Linked DNA regions of Homo sapiens: all the other regions are linked to region 3. Evidence: fine-mapped expression QTL. A gene starts in region 3. Each other region holds a variant in brackets. All regions are shown on one strand. Distances are between the middles of the regions.

Region 1 (10,144 bases), 26 kb before region 3:
CCTTACTATGGGAAGAGGTCATATCCCTTCCCTGCCCCTCGCTGTCTTTAGCAAGCAGGTTTCACTGCTTCATTAGAAGAGGACAAGTCAAAAGTGAATCATTTTTCACTACTTAAGGAATAAATCCAAGAGCTTTCCAGAGACTGGCTGCTGCAGCCCTGGGAATGTCTGTGGAATTACTATGTGGAAATGGAACTTTGTGTTATGCTCTAGACATTACAGTTATTTGAGTGTTACTCGTTACTGTTGAGGTCAGTGCTTCGTGGCAAATGGCTGTACTGGATATCCCAGCTCTGCTGCCCTTGTTTTGCTGCATGTTAAATAAAACCATTTTCACTGTACTTGGAATCTTCCTAGTATAGACGCCATTCACCCTGATGGAGGAAAAGGTACCACCTATGAATTCTAGATATACATGAGGACAGCCTATGATAGAACTGCCCAAGGTTTTTGTTAAAAGTGCGGGTTCCTGTACGCTTATATTTTAAGGGAACTAAATAACCAAAATGTTAAGTGTTCCAGAAGAGGTGAGGCAAGATTTCAGAAGCACAAGTATACCACCAAGCGTTCTTGTTCAGACTTCCAAGACACTGCAGTCACCACAACTTTGGGGTTTTTTTTTTTTTTTTTTTTAAACAGAGATGGAGTCTCCCTATGTTGCCCAGGTTGGTCTCAAACTCCTGGGGTTGAGGGATCCTCCCAAAGTGCTGGGATTACAGGACGTGAGCCACTGCACCCGACCTGGGGGGTGATTTCTTATCTAAGGAGGCACAGGAAGACAGTTGCGTATCAGAACATAAAACAAGGCCGGGTGTGGTGGTTCACGCCTGTAATCCCAGCACTGTGAGAGGCCAAGGCGGGCAGATCACAAGGTCAGGAGTTTGAGATCAGTCTGGCCAACACAGTGAAACCCCATCTCTACTAAAAATACAAAAAAATTAGCTGGGTATGGTGTGCACTTATAATCCCAGCTACTTGGGAGGCTGAGGCAGGAGAATCACGTGAACCCTGGAGGCGGAGGTTGCAGTGAGCTGAGATCGTGCCATTGCACTCCAGGCCAGGCAACAGTGCAAGACTCCGTCTCAAAAAAAAAAGAACATAAAACAAGCATTTTTTAATCTCTTACCACCTCAGGTTCAGACTAGACAGATAAAAAATTCCCTGGGTGGACTCTAAGAACCTACATTTGCAAAACAACATTTATTCTTTTAAAAAAATCTATATACATTGCCATACAAAGATACCACATTGAAGCAGTTCTCAGGAACCTTCCAGTGAGCCTTCTCTTATAATTGCCCGAGCAAGATTTCGTGCCAGAGAAAGTCTCAGCATTTCCACCTTGGTGGTCTCTATGTCATCATCCTGCAAAGCAGAGAGCGCCAGCATGAGCTAAGAGCAGGAAGGAGCCCTTTCACACTCCCGAAGGGTCTAGCTAATCCAAAGGTAGAGGGCACTTAACATTCATAGTAGCTTCCAGCAAATTATCGATGTAAAAGAAAGCAATACCAAAGGGCCATACTGGAAATGATGAACAGCAAAGAACAAAATGTAGAGATGAGAACACTAGAATCCCTGATTTTCTCCTAAAAGAAGGTGGTGTGTGAATTACACAGGTTAAGGGGAACAGAGGCACATGTGTCCATAGGAGCCAGTGTTTCTGGAGGGAAGGGGAAGCCTGAGATAGAGGGAGCCTTTTCCCACCTCCATGTGGAACCATCAACCCAAAAGTGAAAATGACCTGGAGCTGCTCGGTATCAGATTCTCCATGCACAGGTCTTCTTGACGTCAAGTCCTCCAGACACCGCATCAACTCATAAGTCTGTTCTGCTGAGAAAATCACCTAGGGAAGAGAGCCTGCCTTGCTTGGCTGCCCCCAGCCCTGGCCTGCATTGGTTGGGGCAGGGGCCCATGTTCGGACGTTCTTCCTTTCATACCCTTCGCAATAGTGTGCTTTGTATACGAATACCTCATTTCAAATCAAGCAGTGTTTGTTTCCTGTGTGAGTCTGGAATCCCAGAGAGGGCGCTAAGGGGAATACACGCGCACAGGCAGAACGACAAAGGAGGAAACACGCACATCGGCAACAGCTATACAACTAAGCTCTAGCAGGGACTGACAAGCAAAGAAAACCACTGCTGCTGCAACCTTCACCTGTTTCTGTTCCAAAAGGGGCAAGGCGTCTGTCAGCAGAGTCATCCAGAAAGACCGAGGGGCAATCCGAGACGTCATCAAGGACAGAAGGAGAGAAGCTGCGTCGGCAAAACGCTTCTCCCCGTACATACGGTGGAACTCGCGATACTTTCCTATGGCGAAACAAGAGCACTGAGTAACCTGCATATTCCCCCAAATTGCCCAAGTGACACCTACAAAAGTCACCCTGGCCCTAAACAGGAGAAGAAAAACCTCAGACCAGCCACTCCACAAAGCAGGAGATTTTTTTCTGTCTCCAAACTCATAGGTCCCAATGAGATGCAGACCAAGAGCATTCAAAACAGACTTGGAAGAACTCCGAAGAGCCAAATCTGGGGAAACATCAGAGTCAAAATACATAACAAGAGTCATGGATTAAAAGAGATTGACTAGGCCAGGCGTGGTGGCTCATGCCTATGCCTGTAACCCCAGCACTTTGGGAGGCCGAGTCAGGTGGATCACCTGAGGTCAGGAGTTTGAGACCAACCTGGCCAACATGGTGAAACCCCATTTCTACTAAAAATACAAAAATTAGCCGGGTATGGTGGCATGCACCTGTAGTCCCAGCTACTCAGGAGGCTGAGGAGGAAGAATGGCTTGAACCCGGGAGGTGGAGGTTGCAGTGAGCCAAGATTGTACCACTGCACTCCAGCGTGGGCGACAGAGTGAGACTCCGTCTCAAAAAAAAAAAAAAAAAGAAGAAACATGGAGGCACTGGCCAGGCACAGTAGCTCACACCTGTAATCCCAGCACTTTGGGAGGCCGAGGCGGGCGGATCACTTGAGGTCAGGAGTTCCAGACCAGCCTGACCAACATGGTGAAACCCCATCTCTACTAAAAATACAAAAATTAGGCGGGGCGCAGTGGCTCACGCCTGTAATCCCAGCACTTTGGGAGGCCGAGGCAGGCGGATCACAAGGTCAGGAGATCAAGACCATCCTGGCTAACACGGTGAAACCCCATCTCTACTAAAAATACAAAAAATTAGCTGGGTGTGGTGGCGTGCGCCTGTAGTCCCAGCTACTTGGGAGGCTGAGGCAGGAGAATTGCTTGGACCCGGGAGGCGGGGGTTGCAGTGAGCCGAGATCACGCCACTGCACTCCAGCCCGGGTGACAGAGTGAGACTCTGTCCCCAAAAAATAAATAAATAAAATACAAAAATTAGCCAGGTGTGGTTCCGCGTGCCTGTAATCCCAGCTACTTGGGAGGCTGAGGCACGAGAATTGCTTGAAGTCAGGAGGTGGAGGTTGCAGTGAGCCTGGCAGCCTGGGCCACAGAGCGAGTAAGATTCTGTCTCAAAAAAAAAAAAAAAGAAAAAATAAAAGAAAAGAAGAAAGAAAGAAAGAGAAAGAGAAAGAGAAAGAAAGAGAGAAAGAAAGAAAAACAAACAAACAAACAAACAAACATGGAGGCACTAAGGAGATGTGACAGCCAAACTCATGATCCTGGACATGACGGAGGATGTTTCTGGGACCACTGATGCAATGGGAATACATGAAGGAAGCGCTGGGAGAAGTCTGACGTGATCCCTCCAACCTCCCCAACTACCCACTTGTGCCCAAAGCACAGGGCACAAAACCCAGAGACTCACCCAGGAATGTCAGTCGGTCACTGAGCATCATGGCTGGCCCCAGGTTGTCAATGAGATCCAAATCAGAAAAGCAGCCTCGCTCACAGTAATCCCTGAGGAACCTGCAGGGCCCGGCCCAGAGATCAGAGCAGCAGTCTCAGGCCCACCTCAACCACCCAGTCCCTGGGAAGCCAACACTAGCGGCACCCACCTGTCTGACACGAGCGTGGCAAAGGCGGCATCCTTAGCACGGATGCTCCAAGAGAGGGCAGAACCCAGGCGATTGTTGCGGACGGCTTTCATGGCTAAGATCTTACAAATGCTGCGAACTTTGCAGGGGAAAAGAAAAGGTAAACGGCTTTCACTCCACAAATCACTCCATTCCTGAGCCCTGTGGGGACCGGAGTGGCCTCACAGCCTCACTCCACCGCAGAGCCACTCTTTGGGCTCTAAATGCAGCTGGATCGGCAGAGCTGGAAACTCGGCTGATTAACAGTGTCTGGGATCTGCTAAGAGTGTAAGTGCCCATCACGGCAAGACTGGCTCTATGAGTGTGTGTGGCTTCAAGGGGAGCAAAACGTTGCTCCCTACATGTCAGCTCTTCTATTTTTTTTCTCCCTACGTGTTTCTCCCTACGTGTCAGCTCTTCTATTACCTCTCCAGATGCCTCAAATCACATCTTCCTGTGGATCGTGAATACCATATGCTTTCAGAAATGGTCGTGAACATGCAACTGCCTCTCTGCAGGGTAATAACTCATGTTTACATTACTCAACAGTGAGGGGAGAAATGAAGGGGCAGACTTGGTCATCCTCATTCCACTCTCTCTGCTTTTCTGGAGCCACCTCCAGCACTGCTTCCCCATTGAGCCAGGCTGAGCTAGCAATAGCAACCCACCTGGACAGGGAAACAGCGCCAACCCCAGCCCTGACCTCGTGGAATCAAGTGTGTGAGAAAAGGGGCGGCTCAGGCCTTTCCAGATGGCGTGTAGATTTTGTCTGGGTTCCAGTGGATCCCTAGCTTTCCTGTCCCTCCCAAGTAATTATCCCATCTCTTAGTTTACCTCTTGGCGTCCACAGCCCCACGTCTCCAGTGTGGCTCGTGAGGAGGAGGATGGCTGGGGTAGGCATAAAGTGTGACCTCAGGATCCCCTGACTCCTGCGTCCCACAGACAGTAGGCTGGGAGCAGGGCCAGCTCACCTTGTTCAGTCATCTGCCGCTGCTCACAGATCCGCAGCACCTTCAGGGCTTTCTGCTCGGTGTTCAGAGGTATCCGCTCAATGTGCAGCTCCAGGGAGACTCGGCCCAGCTCGGGGCAGTAATCAAAGTAATCGACCCCCAGCTGCCACAGGCTGCAAAGGTTCGAGGAGGACAGACATGAGGTGCTGCCTCATGGCTCCGAGGACTGGCACCTACAGCTCCCTTTCACTGACCCTTCCGAAGCCTTCAAGGAGCCAACTGGGAGAGAACAGTCCAAGCTCCAATGGCACCCGCATGCTGAAGAGCACCCGCATAGCCCACACCCATGGGGTCCTTCCTACCTGGGATGAGCAAACAGTCCCGAGGCGTACTCCAGCAGGAGGAACTCTCTCATGTTGGAACCGAAACTGGAATAAAACATAACAAAAGACCAAGACTCCTGGCCTGCCCTGTTCAGGGCCCCCTTAGCCCAACCTCCCTTTCAGGCATTCAGTTCACACCACCCTCGGGGGCCTGGTGGTAAGAAGAGGAGGATCGGTGCCTCCCGGCCACTTACTAGAGGTTGTGTGACTGGAGGAGCTTGCAGTGGTCCAGCAGGTCTGTCAGGTGGGCCACAAACCACCAGTTGCTCAGGGCGATGCTGCAGATTCAGACACCAAGGCAAGAAGGAAAATCAGGGCACAGGCCGCGTCCCACAAGAGTGGGGGTGAGCAAGAAACCCCACATGTCCTGTCCCTCAAAGAGATGGGGCCGGGCGTGATGATAGCTCATGCCCGTGATCCCAGTACTTTGGGAGGCCAAGGCAGGCAGATCACCTGAGTCCAGGAATTTAAGACCAGCCTGGGCAACATGGCAAAACCCCATCTCTACAAATACAAAAATTAGCCAGGCATGGTGGCACACACCTGTAATCCCAGCTACTCGAGAAGCTGGGGTGGGAGTATTGCTTGAGCCTGGGAAGCAGAGGCTGCAATCGGCCGAGATCACGCCACCGCACTCCAACTTGGGTGAGAGAGCACAACCATATCTCAAAAAAAAAAAAATCGCTCAGAAAGTAGTTGAGGTGGAGTCTTGCTCTGTCACCCAGACGGGAGTGCACTGGTGAGATCTCGACTCACTGCAACCTCTGCCTCCCAGGTTCAAGCAATTCTCATGCCTCAGCCTCTTCAGTAGCTGAGATTACAGGCATGCGCTACCACACCCAGCTAGAAAGTAGCTTTTGAATGTTCTCACCACACGCACACCAAAAGGGTCACT[A/G]TGTGAGGTGACAGATGTCACTAGCTTAATTTCACAATGTATACATCTATCAAAACATGTTGTTGGCCGGGCGCGGTAGCTCACACCTGTAATCCCAGCACTTTGGGAGGCCGAGGTGGGAGGATCATGAGGTCAGGAAATCAAGACCATCTTCGCTAACACGGTGAAACCCCATCTCTACAAAAAGTACAAAAAATTAGCCGGATGTTGTGGCGGACACCTGTAGTCCCAGCTACTCTGGAGGCTGAGGCAGGAGAATGGCGTGAACCTAGGAGGCGGGGCTTGCAGTGAGACGAGATCGCGCCATTGTACTCCGGCCTGGGCGACAAAGTGAGACTCCATCTCAAAAAAAAAAAAAAACAAAAAACATGTTGTACACCTTGGCCGGGTGCAGTGGCTCATTCCTGTAATCCCAACACTGAAAGGCCGAGGCGGGTGGATCACTTGAGCTCAGGAGTTCAAGACCAGCCTGGCCAAAATGGCAAAACCCCATCTCCACCAAAAATACAAAAGTTAGCTGGGCGTGGTGGCGTGTGCCTGTGGTCCCAGCTACTCGGAAGGCTGAGGCAGAAGATCGCTTGAGCCCAGGAGGCAGAGGCTGCAGTGAGCTGAGATCGTGCCACTGCACTCCAGCCTGAGTGACAGGGCAAGACTCTGTCTCCAAAAAAAAAAAAAAAATTTTGTACACCTTAAATACATACTACTTTGTTAATCACACCTCAATAAAGCTGGGGAAAAAAATGGGAGGGAGTGGGCTGGGCCAGGGGAAAGGACACCTCAGCTTCCCAAAACAGCTGTTGCTACCCAGATTTCTAGCTGATGGTTATGTCGAAACCATTGGAGAAGCCAGTGAAAAGGCTATAGGGGACCCAGGCTAAGGGAGCCAAAGCCTTAGCCTGCACGAAAGCCACCAACAACTGGAAGGAAGGGCTGAGACAGTGCCCGGTGTCTTCCCAAAGGATCCAGCAGCCTCCAAGGCTGGAAGGCAGCAAGCACTGAGAGCAGAGAACTAACAACACAACTCAAGTGACGGAGACCAGACATAGTGCTGCACAAAGCCACCACGGTCTCTCTACAGGGCCCAGCAGGCCTGAACCACACAGTTAGGTCTTAGATCACACACGCACACACTCCCACTCTCACTCTGTCTCTCTCTCACTCTGAAGGATTCTGAGTGAGCAGCCGAGACACAGAGCAGGTGGGCATCCTTAACATTCAAGGCAAGAAAGGCCTAATTATCAGCTCCAAAGTAGCCCTCTGCTGAAAACGAGAGAACGCTGCGGAGTTGGGAAGACCAGCTACGGTGAAGGTGACCCCTCTAAGCAACTGTAGCCCCAAATGAGCTGTTTGTCCTGTACTAAGGTCACTGTCAACTCCTTACCCAGGCCCCATCTTGCTTGTTGGGGGCTCTGGAGTAATCAAAGCTCCAGTGCCTCTACCTGCTATTCTGGAAATGGGGTGTGAGGTTTGTAAACACTGCTGCACCCTGCATCCAAGATTGTGGGCTGGGCCAAAATACAAGTCAGAAGATTCTAGATTCAGCAGACATTAAGCTGGAACTCTTCTTGGTTATTGAAGGAAGACTTGTCACCTTTTAGCTCGATACTTTTGGAGGACTTGAAGGGCACCAGGAAACTGCCGACATCTTGCCCAACTCCCAGTGAAGTGCACCCCAGCTGTTTCCTCTTGCCAGACAGCAAGGAACTGGCCCGTCTTCAGAGGAAGCTGTAAGCCAGGAGGGAAGAAGGGACCCTGTGGAGGACTCCTGCCATCTCCTTTCAGCTAAGGGGTTAGCAGTCAAGCATGCCCACCCAGGCACTGAGAGACAAACCCCTGGCCCTTTAGCAGGGCTGACGAACTACAGCCTCTGAGTCAGGATCCCCTGGCTGCCTTTTCTGCCCCTTAGGGTCTGGCACGATTATTGACATAGGAGTAAATCAGGGGCCCACTTAGAAACCTCCCTTCTCCATGTTCATATGAAGGTGGTGTGAACAGGAAAGGAAAAAAAAGAAAGAAACCTTTTTTCTAATGCCTTTAAAAAGGCATGCCAACAGCTCACTGGCTCAAGTCCAGAAAGAGACACACTTCCCTGCCGCCCAGAACTGTGCATGGGTCTGACTGATACATCCCATGAGAAAACAAGTGCCCACAAGACCCCAATTCAACCTTTCCCCAGAGCCAGGAGGGCACACTTCCTAAAACTGCTACTGCCTCTGAAGACATTGCAGCCCATTTCACAATTCCTGGGACAAGCTCTGCTTTTCTGTTCCTCTTTCAAAACAGGATAGGAGGTAGCCTCGTGATCAGAGAAATGCAAACTCCAAGATTTCCCACTAACAGAGCTCAGATCCCTTCCTGCTTGTGAGAGTGGAGAGAGGCTGAGACTGGGGGACTGCAAGCCTAATCATTCCTTGTCTGTGTCCGGCACGAGAGTGATGTTGTTCACCCCTCTTCATGGTACTTCTCTTTCTCTTCTGCCACTGGAAACAGCAGGATGCTTTCCCCTTTTATACTCCCTGCATCCAACAGACTTCTTCTGCTCAAATCTGTTTTATTCCTAAAAATCCAGATACAGGGCTTATAAATTAGGAAGCCCTGGTGAAACTCACTCACTGTTATAACACAGGAAATTTAGAATACTCAACTATGGGCAGAGACACCAACAAAGCCAAACGATGGTGTGTTTGTGTGTTTTTAAGTTATTCTCACTAATTCTTCCATGCAGGGACTTCTCACAATGTTTACAGGCCTGTGAAAATATTGACACAAAACTTGACTTTCAGGCCGGGCATGGTGGCTTACGCCTGTAATCCTAGCACTGTGGGAGGCCAAGACAGGCAGATCGCTTGAGCTCACAAGTTCAAGAACAGCTTGGGCAACATAGTGAAACCTCATCTCTCCAAAAAAAAAAATAATAATTAGCCAGGCATGGTGGCGCACACTTGTAGTCCTAGCTACCTGGAAGGCTGAGGCAAGAGGATCACTTGAACCCAGGAGGTCAAGGCTGCAGTGAGCTGAGATCACTCCACTGCACTCCAGCCCGGGTGACAAAGTGAGACCCTGTTTCAAAAAAAAAAAACTTGGCAGGGCGCGGTGGCTCACGCCTGTAATCCCAGCACTTTGGGAGGCCGAGATGGGCAGATGACCTGAGGTCAGGAGTTCCAGACCAGCCTGCCTAGGCAACATGGTGAAACCCTGTCTCTATTGAAAAACACAAAAATTTGCTGGGCGTGGTGACGGACACCTGTAATCCCAGCTACTTGGGAGACTGAGGCAGTAGAATTGCTGGAACCCAGTAGGTGGAGGTTGCAGTGAGCCAAGATCACGCCACTGCACTCCAGTCTGGGTGACAAGAGCAAAACTCTGTCTCAAAAAAAAAAAAAAAAAAAAAAAAAACCCAGAAACAAACACACAAAAAACTTGTTTTTCATTCCCCAAATCTAGTATCATTTTCTTGAAGCCCTGGCATTCTTTTGGCCAAAACAAGAAAAGCAGGTAGGGCGAAGGAAACTCTTCCCATGCCCAGATCTACAAACAGCCAGTTGAGGTCAGTGAATCTGACACCTGATCAAGGCCATCTTCTGCCATTACCCACTTCCTCCCTTCCCAGCACGTCTTCAGTGCAATGCCCACCATCCAGGGTGCACAACAAGGAAGGGGACCTTCTTTCTGACTTACCATATATGGAGAGTTCTGGAAAGGTTTACCTTTGATTGATTATGTTTGGCACTCCCTTTCCTGCCTTGCTAAAGATTCAGTGCAATCATAGAACACCCTCTTTTGGATAGAGGGCTGGAAATTCTGAATAATACCCAGCCTGAAGCCCAGTGGTTCGGTAGCTCACGTCACTGGAGTGAGACTCTTGGAACACGCCATCCCATAAGGTGTCCATTAGGTGCCAAGAAACAGGCTTGCTGGCTTTTTCTA
Region 2 (5,000 bases), 410 kb before region 3:
TGGGGCAGGGAGAGGGTTGGAGCCATGGCCCGGGGCGTGGGGCTTCCCATGCTCTGCCAACCTCCATGTGCCCACTCCAGCCTTACCTGTGTGGTCCCTGCTGGGCAGCGTTGGGGCTGGACCTGGAGGGGGTCCTGGGGGCAGTGAGGGGGCCTGAATGCCAGGGGCAAGGGGAATGGCCTCGGCTCTGCAGGAAACGGGATCCAGCTAAGGGGGTGGCCAAGGCTGAGGGTCACCCAGGCTGGGGCAAGAGGTAGAAGCTGCTGCGGGGGTCACCCCATGGTTGGGAGGAGGCTGGGTGGGAGGGCTGGGCCTGTGGCAGCTCCTATAAACCCCTGAGTGTGGCAGGGTGGCTGTGGGGTTCCCCGGCAGGAGCAGGCCAGGGAGAGGGGTGCTGGGTGGCACCTACGAGCCAAGAGGAGTGATGGGGTAGCTGCGGGGGCGAGCTGGGTCCCCCAGGTCCTCAGTCTGGCTGATCAGGTCCAGCACAAAGTCGCAGCCAGCCAAGTCCTGCCATGCGTCCCTGGAGTGCAGTGACACAGACCAGCCCCGGGGAGGCGCCTCCAGGCCTCTGGGTGGGAGGGGACCAGTCAGTGAGGCAGGCGGCCATCCAGAAGGGGGCAAGGACCACAGGGTGGGCCAAGGGGGCAGGGGGCTGAGGAAGGGAGGGTGGCCCTGGATCCGCCTGGTCCGGGACCCAGGTTTGCTCAGCAGTGGGGGCTGCTCCCCTCCTCACCTCACGGCCCTCCACTTCCACAAGGGCTCCAGCATGGGCATTTCTTTTCTGACCTGCTGAGTTAGAATCTGCCGTGGGAGCTCCCAAGCCCCTCATTCCTAATCTGCCCCCGGCTCCCCATCGCCATCTGCAGTCTGGCCCCTGCCCACCCCGGGGCACCTCTCCTCCCGGCCCCTGAGACTGGGCTTGGAGAAGGAGGAGGGTATAGGACAAGGGTCACTTTGGCCACACTGTCCCCCATCCCCGGTCCCCATACCTGCTCTGCAGGATCCACCCAGCCAGCTGCTCCCCGGTGGTCCAAGACTCCACCTCGGCCGAGTAGCACTCCTCTGCAGGGGCATGGGGGGCGGGGGCAAGAGTGAGGGACAGCAGAGTCCACCCTGACAGGAAGGGGCTGCTGTCCCCATGAGAGTTTCAAAAGCAGGACAGAGGGGAGGGGGATCAGGGTCACTGAGGACAGGGCAGCAGGAAGACTGGGGCAGGAAGGGGTTCCAGGGAGGGCAAAGGGGTAGGGCTGGCCCCACTTCAGGCCTGGGAGGCCTCAGCCAGAGGCAGCCCTCACCGCTGAAGGTGAACACATCCAGCGCCATGCGGCCCCGCCGCCATCCGGCCAGCCACTCCAGCTGGGTCGGGGGGTGGGCCCGAGTGGCCCCCGAGGCCAGCTGCGACTGCTCCAAGGCCCCCAGCAGCTTGTGCTGGCACAGCGCTGCCATGCCCCTGGGGGCCTGGTCAGACACGAACCTGCAGGGCGGGCACAGGCTGCAGTGGAGGCAGGGTGATCCAGCGACCCCACCTGCCAGGTCCCCACCTCCCAGGCCCCTTACTTGAGCAGTGGCTTCTGTAGGACAGGCAGTGGGGGAAAGGCGCTGAGCAAAACAGCCATGAGGGCCCAGCCACGCTGGCTCTGCTGTTCATCTGGGTTCTGCCATAGCTGGGCCACCAGCTGGCTAAAGAGCTCATTCCGCAGCCCTGGCCGGCACTGCCCCTGCCGCACCAGGTATGCGCCCATGATCTGCCTCTGCCAGGACTCCAGGGATCCGTCCCCCAGGAGCCGCAGCATCTGCCGACACAGCCGGGTAAGGACAGGACGTGCGGGGCTCCCAGGCGCCTATCCTGTCCCTTCTCCAATGTGTCACTCACCACTTTGTTGATGTCCAGGGCACGCTGAGGGTTGTCTCCATCCAGCTGGGTTAGGGGCTTCGCCAGTGGCTGCCCTGGCCTGGGCAGGGACGGTTCCTGCAAGGAAGGAGAGGGCTCAGTCCATGCTCACCAGCTATCAGACAGCCCAGGGGAGCCCCACCGGAGCAGGCACCTCGGGAGAGGCAGAGGGGCTGGACAGAAATGCATCTTAATGCCTTTTTTTTTTTTTTGAGGCAGAGTCTTGTCTGTCGCCCAGGCTGGAGTGCAGTGGCACAATCTCAGCTCACTGCAGCCTCCACCTCCCAGGTTCAAGTGATTCTCCTGTCTCAGCCTCCTGAGTAGCTGGGACTACAGGCGCATGTCTGGCTAATTTTTGTATTTTTAGTAGAGACGGGGTTTCACCATGTTGGCCAGGCCGGTCTCAAACTCCTGACCTCAGGTGATCCACCCACCTCGGCCTCCCAAAAGTGCTGGGATTACAAGCATGAGCCACCATGTCCAACCTGTATGTGCAGTTTTGAACCTGCATTTGTATTTACTGCTGAAGTCTGGACAATTTCCCTTGTCAATAAACATTCTTTAAGGTCATGACTTCAAAAGCAGGGCACTACCGCAGGTACAACAAAGGTGTGGCATCGTGGATCTAAATAACGTCTCCCATTCAATAACACCAACTGTTATCTCCAGTAACGCTCTATGGTGAGACAATTACATTCAACGGTTATTTTCAGAGCAATTCAGCGCTACTCACAGCCCCAAAGGCTGGGGAGGAAGGAGGGCAAGAGCTGACAGCGGGGAAAAAAACGCAGCATCTGTCAGGCAGGTGCTAACTCAGAGCGGTGAGGCCAG[C/T]GGGAAGAGCTTAGGCCTGGGCGCCCACCTGAAAGCCGATGGCGACGAAGCTGGAGAAAGGGAACAGGTCAATGTCTGCTGGGAGAGTCAGGCTGGGCCGGGCAGGAACCTCAGGCGGCAGGCACTCGGTGATGCTCCCAGCCAGGGCGTCCCGATGGCCTGGGAACAAGCACCGGGAGGCAGCCCAGGAGCATCCAGGTGTGGTACCTGGCCCTGGGACCACCTCCATCCCTCACCACGAGCCATCAGCCCCTGTCCACAGGGACCCAAGTGATGAGCTCAGGGGAGTCTGGAGCATCAGAGGGAGGAACCACAAGGGACAGACACACCCCACAGTAAAGGGACTGGAGAAGGAGTCCTAACAAGAGGACACCAACAAGACTCACTTTCCGCCGTCTTCAGCATGACGGCCAGCTCAGCCGGGATCTCCAAGCGCCCCAGCTCCTGGCAGAGGGGACTCATTTACCCAGGATCCACAGGAGGGGCCTAGGGACCAGTGTCCCTCCCCACACCCTCAACCCCAAGATTATAAACATCCCTTCCAAAGACCACGGATTTTTTTTTTTTTTTTTTTTTGAGGCAGGGTCTCACTCTGTCACCCAGGCTAGAGTGCAGTGGTACCATCATGGCTCACTGCAGCCTTGACTTCTGAGGCTCTAGCTCAAGCGATCCTCCCACCTCAAACCTCCTGAGTAGCTGAGACTATAGGCATGTGCTACTGTGTCCAGCTAATTTTTATTGTTTTTGTAGAGATGGGGTCTTGTCATGTTGCCCAGGCTGGTCTCAAATTCCTGGGCTCAAGCAATCCTCACACCTCGACCTCAAAGTGCTGGGATTACAGGTGTGTGCCACCACACCCAGCCAAAGACCAAGGATTCTGACCCTGGACACTCGAACAAACAGAGCCCCAAAGACCCTCTGAGGGAAACCAAGAGCCAAGAGCACCCCGGTCCTCTTCTCAGGAGGTGCAATGCATGGCCCTGAGGGACAAGACCCACGGTAGCACCCTGGCAGCCCTCTAAGCTGTCCCAGTCTCAGCAGGTTCATAGCCCCATGTAAAACCCCCCACTTTCCAGGCCACCTACCATGCTTGGCACTCTCTCCAAGGCCCTTTCGCTGCTATGCCAGCCCTGCCAACGCCCAAGCTGTTGGAAGAGATGTGGGAAGAGCTGATGCCTCCCATGTGAGTCACCTGGGGGCACCTCCCCAGCTCTGAAGTTCAGCTGTCCCCTCCTGCCCCTGGGAGGTTCTCAGCAAAGGAGTGAGAACAGATCAGGAGGGGCCAGCCACCCCTGGCCCTCCAGGGCCCTCACCAGCCTTAGCACTGTGGGCGTCTGTGCCCATCTGCCAGGGCACCGGGAAGAGGGCAGGAAGAAGGGAAGAAATGGTCCCAGGGGACAAAGTCCAGCCAGGGAGGGGCCAGAGAGGGGGTAGCACGTGGGCATTGACCTTTGAGTCGCTTTATAGACCTTAGATTTGAGTCATCATGCAAAAGAGGGGAGCGGACGGGGCCCAGGGGAGGCCTGGAGGGGATGGGAACCCCAGGCAAGAGGGAAGAGCCAGGCCCTGGGGAGAGTAGGCAGGGATGGAGGAAGACAGCACCTCCCAAGGGCCCCGGCCTACCCCGGCCGGAGGGAAAAGGGATGAGTTCAAGGAGCACTGTGTCTGAAGCCACAGCCCGTGCGAGGCCGGGCTGAGAGGGTCAACGCTGCTGGGATTTGGCCAGCTCGGCCAGCTCAGGCAGCCTGGCTTCTACCCTGAACCGCCCCACCCAAGCCCCTGCACCTGCAGTCTCTGCCGCCTCTGGAGCAGGGGCTGGGCCACCAGCAGGATGGTGTTCAGCTGTCCCAAAGCTGCCCGCCGCCGGAGGTACCGCTTCCTGGAGGCCGGGAAAGAGCGGGGGCGAAATGAAGAGTCCAAACTTATGCTTCCTGCCTGGCACTGGAATCCCTTAAGCCTGACATTCATGTAAAAACTGACTTTGGACCAGAGAAGCCCTGGATGCTTCACAGAAACGACAGGAAAAGAATAGGATACTTCAAAAGAAAAGCAAGGGTCGGGTGCGGTGGCTGATGCCTGTAATCCCAGCACTTTGGGAGGCCAAGGCGGGTGGATCACTTGAGGTCAGGAGTTCAAGACCAGCCTGGCCAACATGGTGAAACCCCGTCTACTAAAAATACAAAAATTACAGCACACCTGTAATCCCAGCTCCTCAGGAGGCTGAGGCACCAGAATCACTTGAACCTGGGAGGTGGAGATTCAAGTGAGCCGAGAT
Region 3 (10,144 bases):
ACATGTTTTTTTCCTAGAAGTGACAATAGATTTCTCAAACTCACCAATATTCTCCACTAGAGTCCCTTAAATCCAATAATCAGGCCAGGTGCAGTGGCTCACTCCTATAATCCCAGCACTTTGGGACGCTGAGGTGGGCAGATCACTTGAGGTCAGGAGTTCAAGACCAGCCCAGCCAAAATGATGAAACCCCATCTCTACTAAAAATGCAAAAATTAGCCAGGCGTGGTGGCACGCACCTGTAATCCCAGCTACTCAGGAGGCTGAGGCAGGAGAATGGCTTCAACCCAGGAGGCAGAGGCTGCAGTGGGCCAAGATTGCGCCACTGCACTCCAGCCTGGGTGACAGAGTGAAACTCTGTCTCAAAAAAAAAAAAAAAAACAGGGCCAGGCACAGTGGCTCACGTCTGTAATCCCAGCACTTTGGGAGGCCGAAGCAGGTGGATCACGAGGTCACGAGATCGAGACCATCCTGGCTAACACGGTGAAACCCCGTCTCTACTAAAAATACAAAAAATTAGCCGGATGTGGTGGCAGGCGCCTGTAGTCCCAGCTACTCGGGAGGCTGAGGCAGGAGAATGGCGTGAATCCAGGAGGCAGAGCTTACAGTGAGCGGAGAACGCGTCACTGCACTCCAGCCTGGGTGACAGAGCGAAACTCTGCCTCGAAAAAAAACAGAAAAACAACCAATAATCACTCTTGCACACACTCACACAGAAGCTGACCTGAGTCTTGTCCAGAATGATTCATTTGTGAAAAGCTTATCAAAGAAGTAACATACCAACACTGCCCATTCCCTAGCCATCCATGTGAAGGGACGCTGACAAAAATCTAACACAGGAGTTCTTAAACTTCAGTGTGCTGGAGATTTTAAGATCCAACCACGGAGATTTTGATTTTGATGATCTGAGGTGGGTCCCAAAAGTCTACAATTAACAAGTACCACTCTGATAATGATGAAGTTATGAACTACAATTCAAGAAAATCCTAATCTATAAATAGTACGAGAGTTTTCTGGTCTGTTGTCAAATAACGTCTGAACCATAATTTTTTAGAGACAAAACTGTTAGGTTTATATTAATTTTCAAATCTCCCAACAATGTGACCTCATTCAACGACTCTCACATGCTTGTGTGGCCTAAATTTTCTTCTTTAGAGGCTAAGTAAAATATGAATATAAATAAAGCTTGTCAAGCCAGCCCATCAATAGCATTTGCATATTCCCGCTAAGTCTTCCCATCACTGCTAATGTACACTGTCCAGTACTCATGCCTCAACTAGAACCAGGAGTCTCTTATTTCTTTACGCAACCCATAAAACACACAAAAAGACAACAATGTACTTCATTTGGCTTTCCACAGTGTAGTGTGGGCTTCAACACCAAACAGCAACCAACTTACTGAGATTTTCTGGATTTTCCAGTCAACTCTTCGTCAATTCTCTGGAGGCCCAGAAAGATTCCATGGGATTCATTGAAGAGTTTTCTCAAGATTTGAGAGTAAACATCTACATCCTTACGGATGATATAGATAAAGGGGCAACTTGGCACCATCTCTGATTTTTCTGAAACCAAACAGAAAAAAAAAATTTAACATCTATTATGATCATCTCCAAAAGTGAATCTACTCTAAAAAAATTTTCTGTGGCCGGGCATGGTGGCTCTTGCCTATAATCCCAGCACTTTGGGAGGCCAAGGCAGGCAGATCACGAGGTCAGGAATTCGAGACCAGGCTGGCCAACATAGCAAAACCCTGTCTCTACTAAAAATACAAAAATTAGCTGGGCGTGGTGGCACATGCCTTCATTCCCAGCTACTCAGGAGACTGAGGCAGGAGAATTGCTTCAAACCGGGAGGCGGAGGTGGCAGTGAGCCGAGATCACACCACTGCATTCCAGCCTGGACAGAGCGAGACTCCGTCTCAAAAAAAAAAAAAAAAAAAGAAAGCAAATCAAATGTCAAGATTCCAGTTTTATCCTTCTACTGGAAGGAGACTGTATCACTGTATCAGGAAAAGAAAAAGATTCACATCCTATCCAATAGCTGATGGAACTCAGGAAAATCAAGCCAAGGACAAGCTATGTCACTCTCCAGCTCCATCTGTGCCTTGGATGCTACGGCTCAGCTCAGCCTACAGAACTATTATTCAGCTGAATCCATGCTGTGGACACAAAAGTGACGGCCAAGCATCTGCAAGGTTCACAATAAGGGAGCTACTGATAGGAATTTGGTCACTTTGGACAAAGAAAAAGGGATAAAAAGCTTGACATTTTAAATATGAAGAAAATTTTTCATGAAAACTATTAATTTTTTTCCGGGATTCAACATCTTCAAGATCTCAAAAATCAATGAAAATCTAAAATAGCTAACATTTCAAAAATAAAAATGCCAAAATGCAACAGGATCGCTTGAGGCCAGGAGTGCGAGACCAGCCTAGGCAACAAAATGAGACTCCCATCTCTACAAAGAAAAAAAAATTAGCTGGGCGTGGTGGCATGGTGACCTGTAGTCTCAGCTACTAGGAAGACTGAGGCAGAGGATCACTTGAGCCCAAGAGGTAGAGGCTGCAGTGAGCCATGATCACACTGTACTCCAGCCCAGGTGACACAACAAAACCCTGTTGTATCTTGAAAACAAAATAGAGAAAATTAAAATAGTACAAAATAAATTCAACTGTTTCAGTCCACAACTAGTAAAATCTGAGGTAATAAACAGAAAAACAACCAAATGTGCCAAGATGGATAATTTGGAAGAAAAAAAACCCTACCTTTTTTGTTGAAGGAGGTTTCACATACCAGCATCTCCCCTGGACCCCAGTCAAAATACATTTGGTTCTTCTTGGAATTCACGCCTGGAATCAACTAGTAAAATAAGGCATAGAAATCTAAAATGAAAAATGTTCTTCTTACTGAAGTTGTTCCATTCTTTTTTTTTTTTTTTTTTTTTTGAGACAAAGACTCACTCTAACAGGCTGGTGTACAGTGGTGTAATCTCAGCTTGCTCCAATCGCCGCCTCCTGGGTTCAAAGGCTTCTCCTGCCTCAACCTCCTGAGTAGCTGGGACTACAGGTGTGTGCAACCACACCCGGCTATTTTTTTTTTTTTTTTCATTTTTAGTAGAGATAGAGTTTCACCATATTGCCCAGGCTGGTCACAAACTCCTGAGTTCAGGTGATCCGTCCGCCTCAGCCTCCCAAAGTGCTAGGACTACAGGCGCGAGCCACCGTGCCCGCCCTGCTGAAAAACACTTTAAGTGAAGAGCACAGCTGGTCCTCTAATAACACTGTATCCTTCAATAACATTTCCTTATAACACTGGTAAGAAAAATTCATTTTGGGCCGGCAGCGGGGTGGCTCCTGCCAGCACTTTGGGAGGCTAAGGCGGGCAGATCATCTGAGGTCAGGAGTTCGAACTCTTGTTGCCCAGGCTGGACTGCAGTGACGCAATCTCGACTCACTGCAACCTCTGCCTGCTGGGTTCAAGTGATTCTCCTGCCTCAGCTTCTTGAGTAGGTGGGATTACAGGCACGCGCCACCAAACCAGGCTAATTTTTGTATTTTTTTAGTAGAGATGGGGTTTCACCATGTTGGCCAGGTTGATCTCGAACTCCTAGCCAAGCGCGGTGGCTCATGCCTGTAATCCCAGCACTTTGGGAGGCCGAGGCAGGCTGATCACGAGGTCAGGCTTTGGAGACCAGCCTGACCAAGATGGTGAAACCCCATCTCTACCAAAAATACAAAAATTAGCTGGGTGTGGTGGCACGCACCTGTAATCTCAGCTACTCAGGAGACTGAGGCAGAAGAATCGCTTGAACCCAGGAGCCAGAGGTTGCAGTGAGCTGAGATCACGCCACTGCACTCCACTCTGGGTGACAGAGTGAGAATCCGTCTCAAAAAAAGAATGAGGCCAGGCGCAGTGGCTCACACTTGTAATCCCAGCACTTTGGGAGACTGAGGCCGGCAGATCACCTGAGGTCAGGAGTTCCAGACCAGCCTGACCAACATGGAGAAACCTCGTCTCTACTAAAAAAATACAAAATTAGCCGGGCATGGTGGCACATGCCTGCAATCCCAGCTACTCAGGAGGCTGAGGCAGGAGAATTGCTTGAACCTGGGAGGCGGAGGTTGCAGAGAGCCGAGACCGCACCACTGCACTCTAGCCTGGGCGACAAGAGGGAAACTCCGCCTCAAGAGAAAAAAAAAAGAAGGCCACATATCTCCCCAGAGAGCTTCCCTCACAAATTGCTCACAAGGAAATTCCTTGTGAGCCTCTAAAATTTTCAGGATACACATCGCCCCTATAAACTAGTCCTAAAATCAAGATCTGTTGATTCTGACAATGTCAACTACCAGCTTATCTTCACAAGTAAAAGACCAGAAATCGGCCGGGTGCGGTGGCTCACGCCTGTAATCCCAGCACTTTGGGAGGCCGAGGTGGGCGGATCACGAGGTCAGGAGATTGAGACCATCCTGGCCAACACGGTGAAACCCCGTCTCTACTAAAAATACAAAAAAGTACAAAAAATTAGCCGGGCGTGGTGGCGGGCACCTGTAGTCCCAGCTACTCAGGAGGCTGAGGCAGGAGAATGGTGTGAACCCGGGAGGCGGAGGTTACAGTGAGCCGAGACCGCGCCACTGCACTCCAGCCTGGGAGACAGAGCGAGACTCCGTCTAAAAAATAACAGTAATAATAACCATAATCCCTCTACCTACCCTGAGATGAATGCATACATAAAATTTTCCTCTGCTCCCTCTTTTCACAGGTAAAATGCAGATTTACTGAGGCTAATCACCGACTCACAAGAATGTAATCATTTGCCTCCTCACTGCCTAACCTCCCTTTTTTGCCCCTCCTGCTAGCTCCTTCCTCTTTAACTAGTGATGTTCCCAAAACCATCTTTGGAAAAAGCACAGGTCTCAGATCCTCCTGTGACCTGTGCTTTTTCCCGGTTGGATCCTCAACCTTAGCTAATTAAACCTTTATCGGTTGAGACCTGCCTCAGTCACTTCTGGTTAACAAGAGGGAAAACAAGAGCAATCCAACTAGCAGAAACGGTAGGTATCTCGTACATAAAGCGCGTGAATTTTTTTTATACACATCACAGATCATCCACAGTTGACATACTGTCTTCAAAGTTCAAATGGAATTGAATGCACAGCGATAAAACAGGAATAGTCTCCTGAGATAATACGTTGAATAAACCTTAGGCCACACAGGCAGAAGCTCAATGTGCCGCGATGCAGAGCTTAATACGGCTGGAATAAAAATATAAATTCCTCTGCTTGGGCTGAACCCACTCTAATGCCCAAGAGGAAAAGCAAGGGAAGTAAAAAGGCCAGGAACACAAAGGAAGGAAAGGGACGGAGTGGGACCTTCGAGGCCGGGGTTTGTGACTGGTGGCAGAAACCCCGCGACCACTGCGACCCTAGGGCGGGCACCTCGTTAACACTGCGACCTCCGGAAAAGTGGCAACTGAGTCGAGGGAAGGGGACGAGCGCCTCGCGACCACTAGGGAAGCAGACAAGCCTGAAGTAACTAAGCAGACGCAGTTCTCAACCCGCAAGGACGAGCAAGCCTGTTCGGGGTACCCTTACAGTGACTGTTGGCTCGCCATCGAGCTCCTCCATAGCGCCGAACCCCAGGCTCCTAGAAGTCGCTCGGACGCCAATGCTTCCCGCTCAGGCCTCCCGCTCAGAGCTGGCTGCGAGACAAGACTCCGCCTGGGCGTCTCCTGCAGCGCCTGCAAGCCCAAACCCTCAGTGCTGCGGCGCTGTCTCCTCTCAGCCACGGCCACCCCTCTGCGGTCCTCTGCACGCGTCCTTCCTTCCTGGCGTCGACAGCAAATCAGGGAAAACAGCGCCGAGGACTGACTGCACTCAGAGTACCGCGCTAACAGGATCAGGCGGCGCCGGGGACACCCTGGTGCCGAGCGGAGAAAAGGCCCCCGGAGACGGCGGGAGGGGCAGGAGGACCCCGGGGCTGGAGACGGTGCGAATGCGCGTGCGTAGGCTGGGGCGGCGGCACTTGGGTGGGAACTCGTGCGGGATTTAGGTCCCAGTAAGCGTACAACGTCTCCCAACTCTGGGAGTCCTCGCTACATCCCGGTCTCCACCTTAGTGTCGTCGCAGCCACTTGTCCAAACCCCGACAGTCAAACGGGCTTGTGCTGGAAAGCAATCGCCTCCACTTCCACACTAGAACACACACAAGAGGCACGGGAACAAAATCGATACCCCTGAAGGCCCGGCGCTGTGGCTCAAGCCTCTAATCCCAACACTTTGGCAGCCCAAGGTGGGTGGATCACTGGAGTTCAGGAGTTCAAGACCAGTCTGGCCAATATGATGAAACCTCGTCTCTACTAAAAATATAAAAAATTAGACGGGCGTGGTGGCGGACACCTGTAATTCCAGCTACTCGGAAGGCTGAGGCAAGAGAATTGTTCCAACCCGGGAGGTGGAGGTTGCATTGAGCCAAGATCGCACCACTGCACTCCAGCCTGGGAGACAGAGCGAGACTCCGTCTCAAAAAAAAAAAAAAAAATTAGCTGTGCTTGGTAGCGCGCGCCTGTAATCCCAGCACTCCGGGACGCCGAGGTGGTTGGATCACCTGAGGTCAGGAGTTCAAGACCAGCCTGGACAACATGGCGAAACCCCGTCTCTACTGAAAATACAAAAATTAGCCGGGAGTGGTGGCGGACACCTGTAATCCCAGCTACTCGTAAGGCTGAGGCAGGAGAATTGTTCCAACCCGGGAGGCGGAGGTTGCAGTGAGCCAAGATCGCGCCACTGCACTCCATCCTGGGCGACAGACGGAGACTCCGTCTCAAAAAAAAAAAAATTATTTTGCTGAGTCTCAAAAAAAAATTATTTTGCTCTTTTTCTCTTAATAAGTTTCCGTTATACCTCAAGTTGGAGTTATCGCCTGTGTAATTGAAAACTTTTCCAGAGTTAAATACAGTTTGAGAGTTAACCACTCTAGAGAGAGGAAGGGGAAAAGAGAGGGGAAGGAGCCACACTCTTTTAGAGAGAGGGGAGGAGAGGAAAGAGAAAAATAAGTTGTAAGATAATTGTTTCATTTTTCCAACCGTTTTCCATTAGGATTAACTGAAAAAGAAGGATACATAAACTACTTCATCAAAACCTTATTCTTAGAAATCTATAGAAAGGTTGAGGAAGGAAAAGGTCCATATATAGTATGCGTAATCAGTATATAGAACAAGGATAGGCCGGGCGCGGTGGCTCACGCCTGTAATCTCAGCGCTTTGGGAGGCCGAGGCGGGTGGATCACCAGGTCAGGAGAGAGAGACCATCCTGGCTAACACGGTGAAACCCCATCTCTACTAAAAATACAAAAAAAAAAAAAAAAAAAAAAAAAAATCAGCCGGGCGTGGTGGCGGGTGCCTGTAGTCCCAGCTCCTCGGGAGGCTGAGACAGGAGAATGGCGTGAACCGGGGAGGCGGAGCTTGCAGTGAACCGAGATTGCACCGCTGCACTCCAGCCTGGGCGACAGAGCGAGACTCCGTCTCAAAAAAAAAAAAGAACAAGGATAGCACTATTAGCTGTAGTTTTCCTTTTTCGCCCTTGTATTACTAAGCCTATTTGAATGATTGGGTAAAATGGTTGGTATATAGCAGTATTAGACCAAAGAATATTGCCAATACTTTTTCCTCAATGTTATCTAGCTCTTGGTCAGGCAATTTAACTACTTTTATTATCTTAAATGGCATTTTGTCAGCCTTAAAATAAAAATAATCAAGGAAATATAGCACTAAGATCTAACAAGCTCTCTCTCTCTTTTTTTTTTCTTTGTCTTTTTTTTTTTTTTTTTTTTTTTGTCTTTTTGAGACAGAGTCTTGCTCTGTCGCCAGGCTGGAGTGGAGTGGCACGATCTCGGCTTACTGCAACCTCCGTCTCCCGGGTTCAAGCGATTCTGCTGCCTAAGCCTCCCGAGCAGCTGGGACTACAGGCACACGCCACTACGCCGGGCTAATTTTTTATTTTTTAGTAGAGACGGGGTTTCGCCATATTGGTCAGGCTGGACTCGAACGCCTGACCTCAGGTGATCCACCCGCCTCAGACTCCCAAAGTGCTAGGGTTACAGGCATGAGCCACCGCACCCAGCCTGGTAAAGTCTTAAGTGGATACATTTCATGCAGCCTAATAAAACTAATGCTCCTGAACCGGGCACAGTGTACATTATTTAACAAAATCTCTGGCCTCAGCCTGGGCAACAGGGCAAGAGCAAGATGCTGTCTCAAAAAATAAAAAATAAAAAAAGGCCGGGCGCGGTGGCTCACGCCTATAATCCCAACACTTCGGGAGGCCGAGGCGGGCGGATTACCTGAGCTCAGGAGTTCAAGACCAGCCTGGGCAACAAGATGAAACCCCGTCTCCACTAAAATACAAAAAATTATTTGGTCATGGCGGTTGTGCGCCTGTAGTCCCAGCTACTGAGGCTGAGGCAGGAGAATCGTTTGAACCCTGGAGGCGGAGGTTGCAGTGAGCCAAGATCATACCACTGCACTCCAGCCCGGACGACAGTGTAAGACTCCCTCTCAAAAAAAAAAAAAAAAAAAAAAAAAAAAAAAAAAAAAAAAACTCTAGCTGGAACTAGTGGCACATACCTGTAGCCCTAGCTACAGCAAGAGGAAGGAGACTGAGGCCAGAGGATTTCTTGAGCCCAGGAGTTCAAGTCAAGGCTGCAGTGAACTACGATTGTTATAGCACTATACTCCAGCAAGACCCTGTTTCAAAAGCAACAATATGGCCAGGCGCAGTGGCTCACGCCTGTTATCCCAGCACTTTGGGAGGCCGAGGTGGGCGGATCACGAGGTCAGCAGTTCGAGACCAGCCTGGCCAATATGGTGAAACCCCGTCTCTACTAAAACTACAAAAATTAGGCATGGTGGCAGGCACCCGTAATCCCAGCTACTCCGGAGGCTGAGGCAGGAGAATCACTTGAACCCGGGAGGCGGAGGTTGCAGTGAGCCAAAACCATGCCATTGCATTCCAGCCTGGGTGACAGAGGGAGACTCCGTCTCAGAAAGAAAAAAAAAAAACAAAAACAAAAAAACAGGCTGGGTGCGGTGGCTCACACCTGTAATCCCAGTAGTTTGGGAGGCTGAGGTGGGCAGATCACCTGAGGTCAGGAGTTCGAAACCAGCCTGGACCAACATGGTGAAACACAGTCTCTACTAAAAATACAAAAATCAGCTGGGCTTCATGGCATCCGCCTGTAATCCCAGCTACTAGGGAGACTGAGGCAAGAGAATCGCTTGAACCCAGGAGGCAGAGGTTGTGGTGAGATGAGATCACGTCATTGCACTCCAGCCTGGGCAACAAGAGCAAAACTCCAACTCAAAAAAACAAAACAAAACAAAACAAAACAACACCCCACCAAGAACAAGAACTCCAACTTCTGACCTTTACCCACTAGATGCCAATAACATCCCACAATTGTGAAAACTGAAAATATCTGCATATATTCCCAGTGTCCTCTAGGGGGCAAAATCACCTCTGTTAAGAGCTGCTGGTATATATGTTCAACCGTAGAAGTTAGCTAAATAAATTATATCAGTGAGATGTTACTTTACTCACCTGTTTAAAATAACTATGAAGACTGACAGGACATGAAAAATTATTTCAAAAAGTTTGAAAATGTTCATCTTTTTGTCCTCATAATTACACTTCCAAGAAATAATCAAGAGAGATGTGTTTTATATAAGCACCAAAAAGGAGATTTAAATGAATAAAAGAAGTGCCTCACAAATAATTTTTATGCAGAATTCTTATTAAAAGGTTATTTGGGGCTGGGCACGGTGGCTCATGCTTGTAATCCCAGCACTTTGGGAAGCCAAGGCTGGCAGATCACCTGAGGTAAGGAGTTCAAGACCAGCGTGACCAATATGGTGAAACCCTGTCTCTACTAAAAATACAAAAAATAGCCAGGCATGGTGACCCATGCCTGTAGTCCCAGCTACTCAGGAGGCTGAGGCAGGAGAATCGCTTGAACCCGGGAGGCAAAGGTTGCAGTGAGCTGAGATCATGCCACTGCACTCCAGCCTGGGCGGCAGAGCACGACTCCATTTCAAAAAAAAAAAAAAATGCCAGGCACGGTGGCTCACACCTGTAATCCCAGCACTTTGGGAGG

What was found. PIP is the estimated chance that this variant, and not a neighbour inherited with it, causes the effect. A credible set is the group of variants that fine-mapping cannot tell apart.
Region 1: its variant is the best candidate, but not a certain one, in a credible set for the expression of NUP85 in whole blood (INTERVAL, PIP 0.87).
Region 2: its variant is the best candidate, but not a certain one, in a credible set for the expression of NUP85 in anterior cingulate cortex (GTEx, PIP 0.59).

What each region holds. Positions count from the first base shown.
Region 1 is chr17:75,226,796-75,236,939 of GRCh38, reverse strand. It overlaps NUP85 (nucleoporin 85), which reads right to left. Exons shown (of 19, transcript NM_024844.5): 12 at 5,517-5,600; 13 at 5,302-5,367; 14 at 4,961-5,112; 15 at 3,972-4,089; 16 at 3,782-3,882; 17 at 2,152-2,303; 18 at 1,739-1,840; 19 at 1,182-1,362. The coding sequence ends at 1,261. GGA3 (golgi associated, gamma adaptin ear containing, ARF binding protein 3) reads left to right here. Exons shown (of 17, transcript NM_138619.4): 17 at 1-341. Among named protein-coding and RNA genes, the nearest start is that of NUP85, 26 kb to the right of the region's middle. RefSeq lists a silencer at 2,126-2,289. The variant A/G (reference allele first, on the strand shown) is at 6,218.
Region 2 is chr17:75,609,770-75,614,769 of GRCh38, reverse strand. MYO15B (myosin XVB) reads right to left here. Exons shown (of 64, transcript NM_001395058.1): 22 at 4,511-4,604; 23 at 3,811-3,870; 24 at 3,112-3,169; 25 at 2,754-2,884; 26 at 1,877-1,972; 27 at 1,561-1,796; 28 at 1,299-1,477; 29 at 993-1,065; 30 at 410-571; 31 at 87-187. Among named protein-coding and RNA genes, the nearest start is that of SMIM5, 21 kb to the left of the region's middle. The variant C/T (reference allele first, on the strand shown) is at 2,726.
Region 3 is chr17:75,201,241-75,211,384 of GRCh38, reverse strand. NUP85 (nucleoporin 85) reads right to left here and starts at 5,706. Exons shown (of 19, transcript NM_024844.5): 1 at 5,591-5,706; 2 at 2,765-2,858; 3 at 1,400-1,562. The coding sequence starts at 5,623. RefSeq lists enhancers at 3,040-3,607, 5,695-5,874, 5,033-5,966, 5,967-6,901.